Linked DNA regions of Homo sapiens. The protein of the gene in region 2 interacts with the protein of the main gene of each other region in a biochemical or structural test. Each region holds a gene or a part of one and is shown on either strand. Other genes may lie near its edges. The genes, in order: RNF34 and MKS1.

The links.
Region 1: of the proteins of MKS1 (region 2) and RNF34, one has a biochemical effect on the other in vitro, tested with the Homo sapiens proteins (one study listed by BioGRID).

The regions. Positions count from the first base shown.
Region 1 is NC_000012.12:121,410,118-121,413,617, forward strand, and holds part of RNF34 (E3 ubiquitin-protein ligase RNF34), read left to right. Parts: intron 1-3,500. UniProt on the Homo sapiens protein: E3 ubiquitin-protein ligase that regulates several biological processes through the ubiquitin-mediated proteasomal degradation of various target proteins.
Region 2 is NC_000017.11:58,212,236-58,216,255, reverse strand, and holds part of MKS1 (tectonic-like complex member MKS1), read left to right. Parts: intron 1-12; coding exon 13-168; intron 169-1,357; exon of another isoform or gene 1,358-1,417; coding exon 1,418-1,515; intron 1,516-1,868; coding exon 1,869-1,997; intron 1,998-2,386; coding exon 2,387-2,491; intron 2,492-3,165; coding exon 3,166-3,274; intron 3,275-3,821; coding exon 3,822-3,878; intron 3,879-4,020. UniProt on the Homo sapiens protein: Component of the tectonic-like complex, a complex localized at the transition zone of primary cilia and acting as a barrier that prevents diffusion of transmembrane proteins between the cilia and plasma membranes.

The DNA.
Region 1 (3,500 bases), on a different chromosome or scaffold from region 2:
CACTCCAACCTGGGCAACAAGAGCGAAACTCCGTCTCAAAAAAAAAGAAAAGGAATTATGTTCATTTCAGCACTGGGATGCCAGGAAATATGGGGCTTAAAGGGGAGATGGAAATTAAAATTTTCAAATATGCTGCATGGGGCTGGCGTGGTGGCTCATGCCTGTAATCCCAGCTCTTTGGGAGGCTGAGGCAGGCGGATTACGAGGTCAGGAGTTCGAGACCAGCCTGGACAACATGGTGAAACCCCGTCTCTACTAAAAATACAAAAATTAGCCGGGTGTGGTGGTGGGTGCCTGTAATCCCGGCTACTTGGGAGGCTGAAGCAGGAGAATTGCTTGAACCCGGGAGGCAGAGGTTGCAGTGAGCCGAGATTGCGCCACTGCATTCCATCCTGGGCAACAGAGCAAGATTCTGTCTCAAAACCACCAAAAAAAAAAAAATGCTGGATGGGAAAAAAAAAAATACTTCAAATATACTAGTGACAGGGGCTTCCCCTGCTTCAAATTTCTGAACTTTCCAGAAGGCTGGAGTGTTGCAAATGCTCCTCTCAGAGATGATAACTATAAGTGGATTTGCCCTTCAATATGATGCTAAGGTTATTCTCTCACTGGGAGATCATGTTCTCATTGGAAGATTTTGCCCAAATTTAAGTTCAGAGATTCTAATGAGGCTGCAACCTAAATTTTTCAGGATTGCTTCTTTACCTTCTATTCCTGTAGTATTTGGCTGACAGTAGTTAATATGTGTCTGAGTTGTACTGAATATTGGGTTATAGCAACATTTTTGCCTGGGACACTTTGGAGGTTGGCTTGGGCTTTTTTGTTGTTTGTTTTTGAGACAGGGTCTCACTCCGTCACCCAGGCTGGAGTGCGGTGGCGTAAGCATAGCTCACCATAGTCTCAACCTCCCAGGCTCAAGAGATCCTTTTGCCTCAGCCTCCGAGTAGCTGGGAGCACAGGCACATGCCACCACACCTGGCTAATTTTATTTTTTGTAGAGATAGAGTCTCCCTATGTTGCCCAGGCTGGTCTTGACCTGGCCTCAAACAATCCTCCCACCTTGGCCACCTAAAGTGCTGGGATTACAGGTGTGAGCCACCATTCCTGGCCTGTTTTTAATTTTTTATTTTATAATGAGGGCTAAATTAAGTGTTTTTCTTCATTTTCTTTCTGGGGAACAAAGAGGAAATTCCCTTCCTTGTATAGAAACGTGAGGAATGGGACAAAATTGTCCCCCTCCAAAATTGGTATCTACACAGAGAATCCATCTGTTTTCCCAAAATAAGTCCTTCTATTCCCTTTACCAGAGCTGTGTAGTTGAAAAAAAAATTTTCAGCCTAGAATTTTAATGCTCATACTCATTAACATGGTTTGAAAAATTGTATTCTTCCCTAATTCATTGTAAAACTATCCCTGATACAAAGGTCATAATCTCTGACAGTGCTGCTTTTAAAAAGGGGTGTCATTTGAGATTTTTGGTTTTCTTTACCAAGAAAACATATTTTGAACTTTCTAAATAGCATGTAAAATTTTATAATGTTACATTGTCTGTGAAGAGATAATAGGAATTTTTTACACAGTTACTTGTCAGTCATACCATGGTGGAAAGAGGAGCAGGAGAAAAAGAAGTTTTTGTCCATGAGGAACTTTCACTGTAGTCCAGGAGGCAACATCAGACATGAATTAGAAGGGGGATAAAAGCTAAGAGAGCTGTTGGTTTAGTAGCTACATTAGTAGGAAGCTAAACTTGTAAAACTGCACTTCTGTTAACCCTGGAATGAAGAGAAGTTTATCCTGGGAGTACTTTCTGCAGTTGAGGTATTTTTTTCCCCAAAAAATGTAACGTGCAAACTAAATTTTTTAGAACAAAGTTTTTCCAGTTTTAAGAGTGCATACTCTAAAGAACTGTGGATGAATCCTTTACTTAAAAGAACATTAACTTTATTATTATTAATTTTTTTTGAGATGGAGTCTCGCTCTGTCACCCAGGCTGGAGTGCAGTGGCGCAATCTTGGCTCACTGCAAACTCCGCCTCCTGGGTTCAAGCGATTCTCCTGCCTCAGCCTCCCGACTAGCTGGGACTACAGGCACGTGCCACCATGCCCAACTAATCTTTTTTTTTTTTTTTTTTTTTTTTTTTGAGATGGAGTCCCGCTCTGTTGCCCAGGCTGGAGTACAGTGGCGCAATCTCGGCTCACTGCAAGCTCTGCCTCCCGGGTTCACGCCATTCTCCCACCTTAGCCTCCCGAGTAGCTGGGACTACAGGTGCCCGCCACCACGCCAGGCTAATTTTGTTTTTGTTTTTTTAGTAGAGATGGGGTTTCACCGTGTCAGCCAGGATGGTCTTGATCTCCTGACCTCATGATCTGCCTGCCTTGTCCTCCCAAACTGCTAGGATTACAGGGGTGAGCCACCACGCCTGGCCTAATTTTTGTGTTTTTAGTAGAGATGGGGTTTTGCCATGTTGGTCAGTCCAGTCTCGAACTCCTGACTTCATGTGATCCACCCGCCTTGGCCTCCCAAAGTGATGAGATTACAGATGTGAGCCATTGTGCCTGGCTGAACACTAACTTTAAATTAACTCTTAGTGAATCTAGATGTTCATGCTTTTTTTTTTTTTTTTTTGAGATGGAGTCTCGCTGTGTCACCCAGGCTGGAGTGCAGTGGCGTGATCTCGGCTCACTGCAACCTCTGCCTCCTGGGTTCAAGTAATTCTCCTGCCTTAGCCTCCCAAGTAGCTGGGATTACAGGTGCCTGGGCCAGCTATTTTTGTATTTTTAGTAGAGACGGGGTTTCACCATGTTGGCCAGGCTGGTCTCGAACTCTTGACCTCATGATCTGCTCCCCCACCTCTGCCTCCCAAAGTGCTGGGATTACAGGCATGAGCCATTGTGCCCAGGCTATTTTTTTTTTCCTTCCTCTTTTCGAGGCAGAGTCTCACTCTGTCACCCAAGCTGGAGTGCAATGGTGCGATCTAGGCTCACTGCAACCTCCGCCTCCCCGGTTCAAGCGATTCTCCTGCCTCGGCCTTCCAAGTAGCTGGGATTACAGGCATCTGCCAATACGCCCAGCTAATTTTTTGTATTTTTAGTAGAGACGGCGTTTCGCCATGTTGTCCAGGCTGTTCTTGAACTCCTGACCTCAGGAGATCCACCTTCCTTGGCCTCCCAAAGTGCTGGGATTACAGGCATAAGCCACTGAGCCTGGCCAGATTTTCATGCTTTTAAGCACACCATGGCTGTAGAGTTTGAGGTATATAATCATTTAAAGGTATGGACTGTTATAATTTTACCTGTCCTTTTTTTTTTTTTTGAGACGGAGTTTTGCTCTTTTGCCCAAGCTGGAGTGCGGTGGCACAATCTTGGTTCACTGCACCCTCCGCCTCCTGGGTTCAAGCGATTCTCCTGCCTCAGCCTCCCGAGTAGCTGGGATTACAGAAGCCTGCCACCATGCCCAGCTTTTTTTTTTTTTTTTTTTTGAGATGGAGTCTCGCTTTGTTG
Region 2 (4,020 bases):
TGGTAACCTCAGTTTGAAGTAGATCTGTACCAAAATGAAACAGCCTGTCAGAGTCCTTTGGATTATCAGTACCGTCAGGAGATCCTGAAGCTGGAGAATTCGGGTGGCAAGAAAAACCGACGAATCTTTACCTACACTGACTCTGATAGATACACCAATTTGGAGGAGGTATTGTTCTTTCTAGGGTCTCATAGCTTCCATCTTTGCTTCCTCTAGCTTTTTTGCCTCACTGAGTTCTGTGTGTTATGTCAGAGCCTAGTAAGGGGAGACAAGTAGCCTGTCTAGGAACTGCTGTGAGCTGCTGCTGCTGGCAGCCAGCCTGGAATAGAATGGGCACAGTCTACAGGTGGTGAGGCTGCTGCTCCCTTCTCTGCCTGCTAGAGGGCCTGGGGGAGCTGCCAGTATCTCTGATTATATGCTTGCAGAGTGCATACTGGGAGAAGTAACCACTGGGCTTGACTTCCTCCATGCATCATGAAAAAAGACAGGTAGTGGAGTCTGGAACAATATAGATAAAATTCATCAGGGGATTCAGCCCAAACTCTGAGTATATGGGTTTGAAGAGGAATTCAGTATAGCTATGGAAAATGGCTTATGTCCTCAATTTGCCTATGACAAAAATACCCTTGTGACCTTGTTTTACATTTTCTTCAGTCACTGCATTTCAGTTGCTTCTGTCTTCTCAGTAAGATTTTAAGCTCCTCGAGGGTAGAGCCTATTTTTTTTATTTTTGTCTATGACTCTGTAGGTCTCTGCAAGGAACAGGTATTCAATAAATGTTTTTGAAAGATTGACGTGCTTTCATTATTAGAGCTGTGGATTGATAACATTAGCTGGGCATGGTGGCATGTACCTGTAGTCCCGGCTACGTGGGAAGCTGAGGCGGGAGGATCACTTGAGCCAAGGAGTTCAAGGTTGCAGTGAGCTATGATAGCACCACTGCACTGCAGCCTGGGTGAGACCCTGTCTCTTAAAAAAATATATAAATTAAATAAAATTTGGGTTGTCTGTTTTGGAAAAGCAAATGAAAATGCAGTTAGTGCTCAGTTACCATGTGAGGATTTCCCACAAAATGCTTGTATCCCATTTGGCATTTTCTAACCACCTTGTTAACTTCAACATCTACCAAGCACACTAACCCAACTTTTTGTTGGTTTGTGCTCAGAGAATGCAGACTGATTTTAATATTAACATAAATAACTCCTTTTTAAAATCCAAAGGCAAACCATGATGTGGTAGAAATCTTCTTTGGGTTGTTTGGCTACTGCTCCCTCCGTTAGCATGTATAATTGTGAGGTGGCGGAACCTGTGGGGTTCAGGTCCTGGATGAGGTTTCAGGAGGAAGACTTCCCTTCAGGTACTTGGCTCCATGTGGCCCTGACCAGATGGCGTACACAGGGCTGCTTGCTTTTCCCAGCACTGTCAGAGAATGACCACTGCAGCCAGCGAGGTGCCTTCATTCTTGGTCGAGCGAATGGCAAATGTCAGGCGTCGCCGGCAGGACAGGCGAGGGATGTGAGTGCGGGCATGGGATGGGGGACAAGCTTTTACTTTTTATTTCCTAAAGTTGGGTAGTTTTGCATTTTTATCAGTGGTTATATATAGTATTCAAGTATTACTTTGTAATTAATTTAAAAAATAAATATAAAAATATAAAATATCTTCCTCACTCTTCATGTGGACATTTTTCCAAAGTGCCTCAGAGAGAGGGAAGGGATGTCATTTCTGTTTGTCAAATATTTTGGCTCTTAAAAAACAAAACAAAACAGTATGTCCACTAGCTCAAACTTCCCATTCTGAAGTGGCTCTCCACTGGGGTGCTCCATTGGGGTGTGCCAGGGAAGTGACCTTTCTGTGGTGTCTCCCAGGGAGGGCGGCATCCTCAAGTCACGCATCGTCACCTGGGAGCCCTCAGAAGAGTTTGTCAGGAACAACCACGTCATTAACACCCCTCTTCAGACAATGCACATCATGGCAGACCTGGGGCCCTATAAAAAGTGAGTGGCGCTTCTCACTGCCAGCTTAGAGCCTCATCCTTTTCTCCTCTCACCAGCTCTCCCCTTCCTGTTATTATCATCCTAGGTTATAGGGGAGGGAGGGACTTTTTCTTCCTTCTCTTCTTAGTTATGAGTGAAGCTTCTCACTGCCAACTCAGATCCTCATCTTCTTCTCCTCTCACCAGCTATCCCCTTCCTGTTATCATCCTGGGTTATAGGAGAGGAAGGGACTTTTTCTTCCTTTTTTTTCTTAGTTGTACTTGGAAGAAAGTTTTACCATGACAGCTCTCCCTATAGCCTCTGTTCTCTCCCCTGCAGTGGGCTCAGTATCTCTTCTTGTTTCCCTGAAGGACCATTGACCTCAACCTTGGTGTTTTCCTGATTTCTAGGCTTGGCTATAAGAAGTATGAACATGTCCTGTGTACTCTGAAGGTGGATAGCAATGGTGTGATCACAGTAAAGCCTGACTTCACGGGCCTCAAAGGACCCTACAGGTGAGGAGAGGAAGAAAGGGGTAGTGGAGACTGGCATTCCTTCCCTTGGTTGCACTTTTTGTCCCTAGTCAACTAGACTGTCAGAAAGTCCTTCATCTGTTCTAACTTTTACATTCCCAGGCAATGGTTCGTATTCTGTTCCAAGTCATAGGGCCTTAGAAAACCAGGGACTCCTTTCTCAGAAAATGTGCAACTGCACCAATTTGAAAGGGATCACTTCAGTGGTACAGTTAAATGACAGTGATTCTCTGTGCTGCTGAATGTAGGACCTGACCAGAACAGAGTGGGGTGAACTCAGCCAGGCTTTTCCTGTGGGCTGACTGTTCCTCATCTCTGTATCTTGGAAATGACAGAAATGTAAATTAGAAATTATCTGGCCCAACCTGTCCATTTTTCAGGTGAGAGAACTGGGTGGCAGGAATGTTGTGCCTTACAGTTTGACTGTAACTTCAAGCCAGAAATGGGCCCAGAACCTATACTTTCTGAGTCTAGTCTGGTGCCCTCTCTGCTTTACCCTTTTGTTTCTCTCTCCTGGTCGTCAATACAGCCACTTTTATCATCATATACTTTAGTGAGGTGTATGGCCCCTGATCGCTCATCCCTGGGCTGGGAGCTATCCCAGGGCCCATCTCTCATTATTAGAGTTGCTCCTTTCTGTGGTTTTGACCTTACAGGATTGAGACGGAGGGGGAGAAGCAGGAGCTGTGGAAATATACGATCGACAATGTTTCCCCCCACGCACAGCCGGAGGAGGAGGAGCGGGAACGGCGAGTGTTCAAGGATGTAAGCGCAAGTTCATTCCAAGTATCCAAGGGATGAGCCTCAGTGCCTGGAGCTGAGACCATTTCTGAACTTGATGTCAGCAGTTGCTCGGGAAAAGCCTTGCCCTTCATGGCCCCTTCTGACTTAGGCAGCATTGCTGACATATCAGACAGAAGTTTTTGATCATATTATAATAATAACAATAACCATTTATTTGAGCATTTACCATGTTCTGTGCTAGGTACTTTACATACCTTATTTCCTTTAGTCTTTACAACAACCCTTTGAGGTGAACACTTATTACCACCTTATAAGTGGGGAAACCGAGATTGAGGAGCTAAGTAGTCTGCCCAAGGTGGCATAGCTTGTAAGGGCGAGAGTCAGGATTCTGCCCCAGACCAGCTGACTCCAGGGCCTCTGCTTCACGGTAAAATGGCGGTGAGTCAGGTGCTTACGCCTCCAGCTCTTGCTGACCCTTCCCACTATTGCTTTTCTTCTTCCCATTCAGAACTGAACTTTGGTCTAGCTTGGGTTGCATCTTGAGTTTTGGTTTGGTTTGTTTCCTCAGCTTTATGGCCGGCACAAGGAGTATCTCAGCAGCCTCGTAGGCACCGACTTTGAGATGGTGAGTAGCTTGGCTTCCTGCAGCACTGTGAGCTGTGTTTAGCCGGAGCATTCTGACTGTGGATGAGTTACACTACCTCTCTTAAAGGCCCAAAGGTATACTCTACAGTGTGAAAAGGAAGTCAAAGAATAGCACATATAGT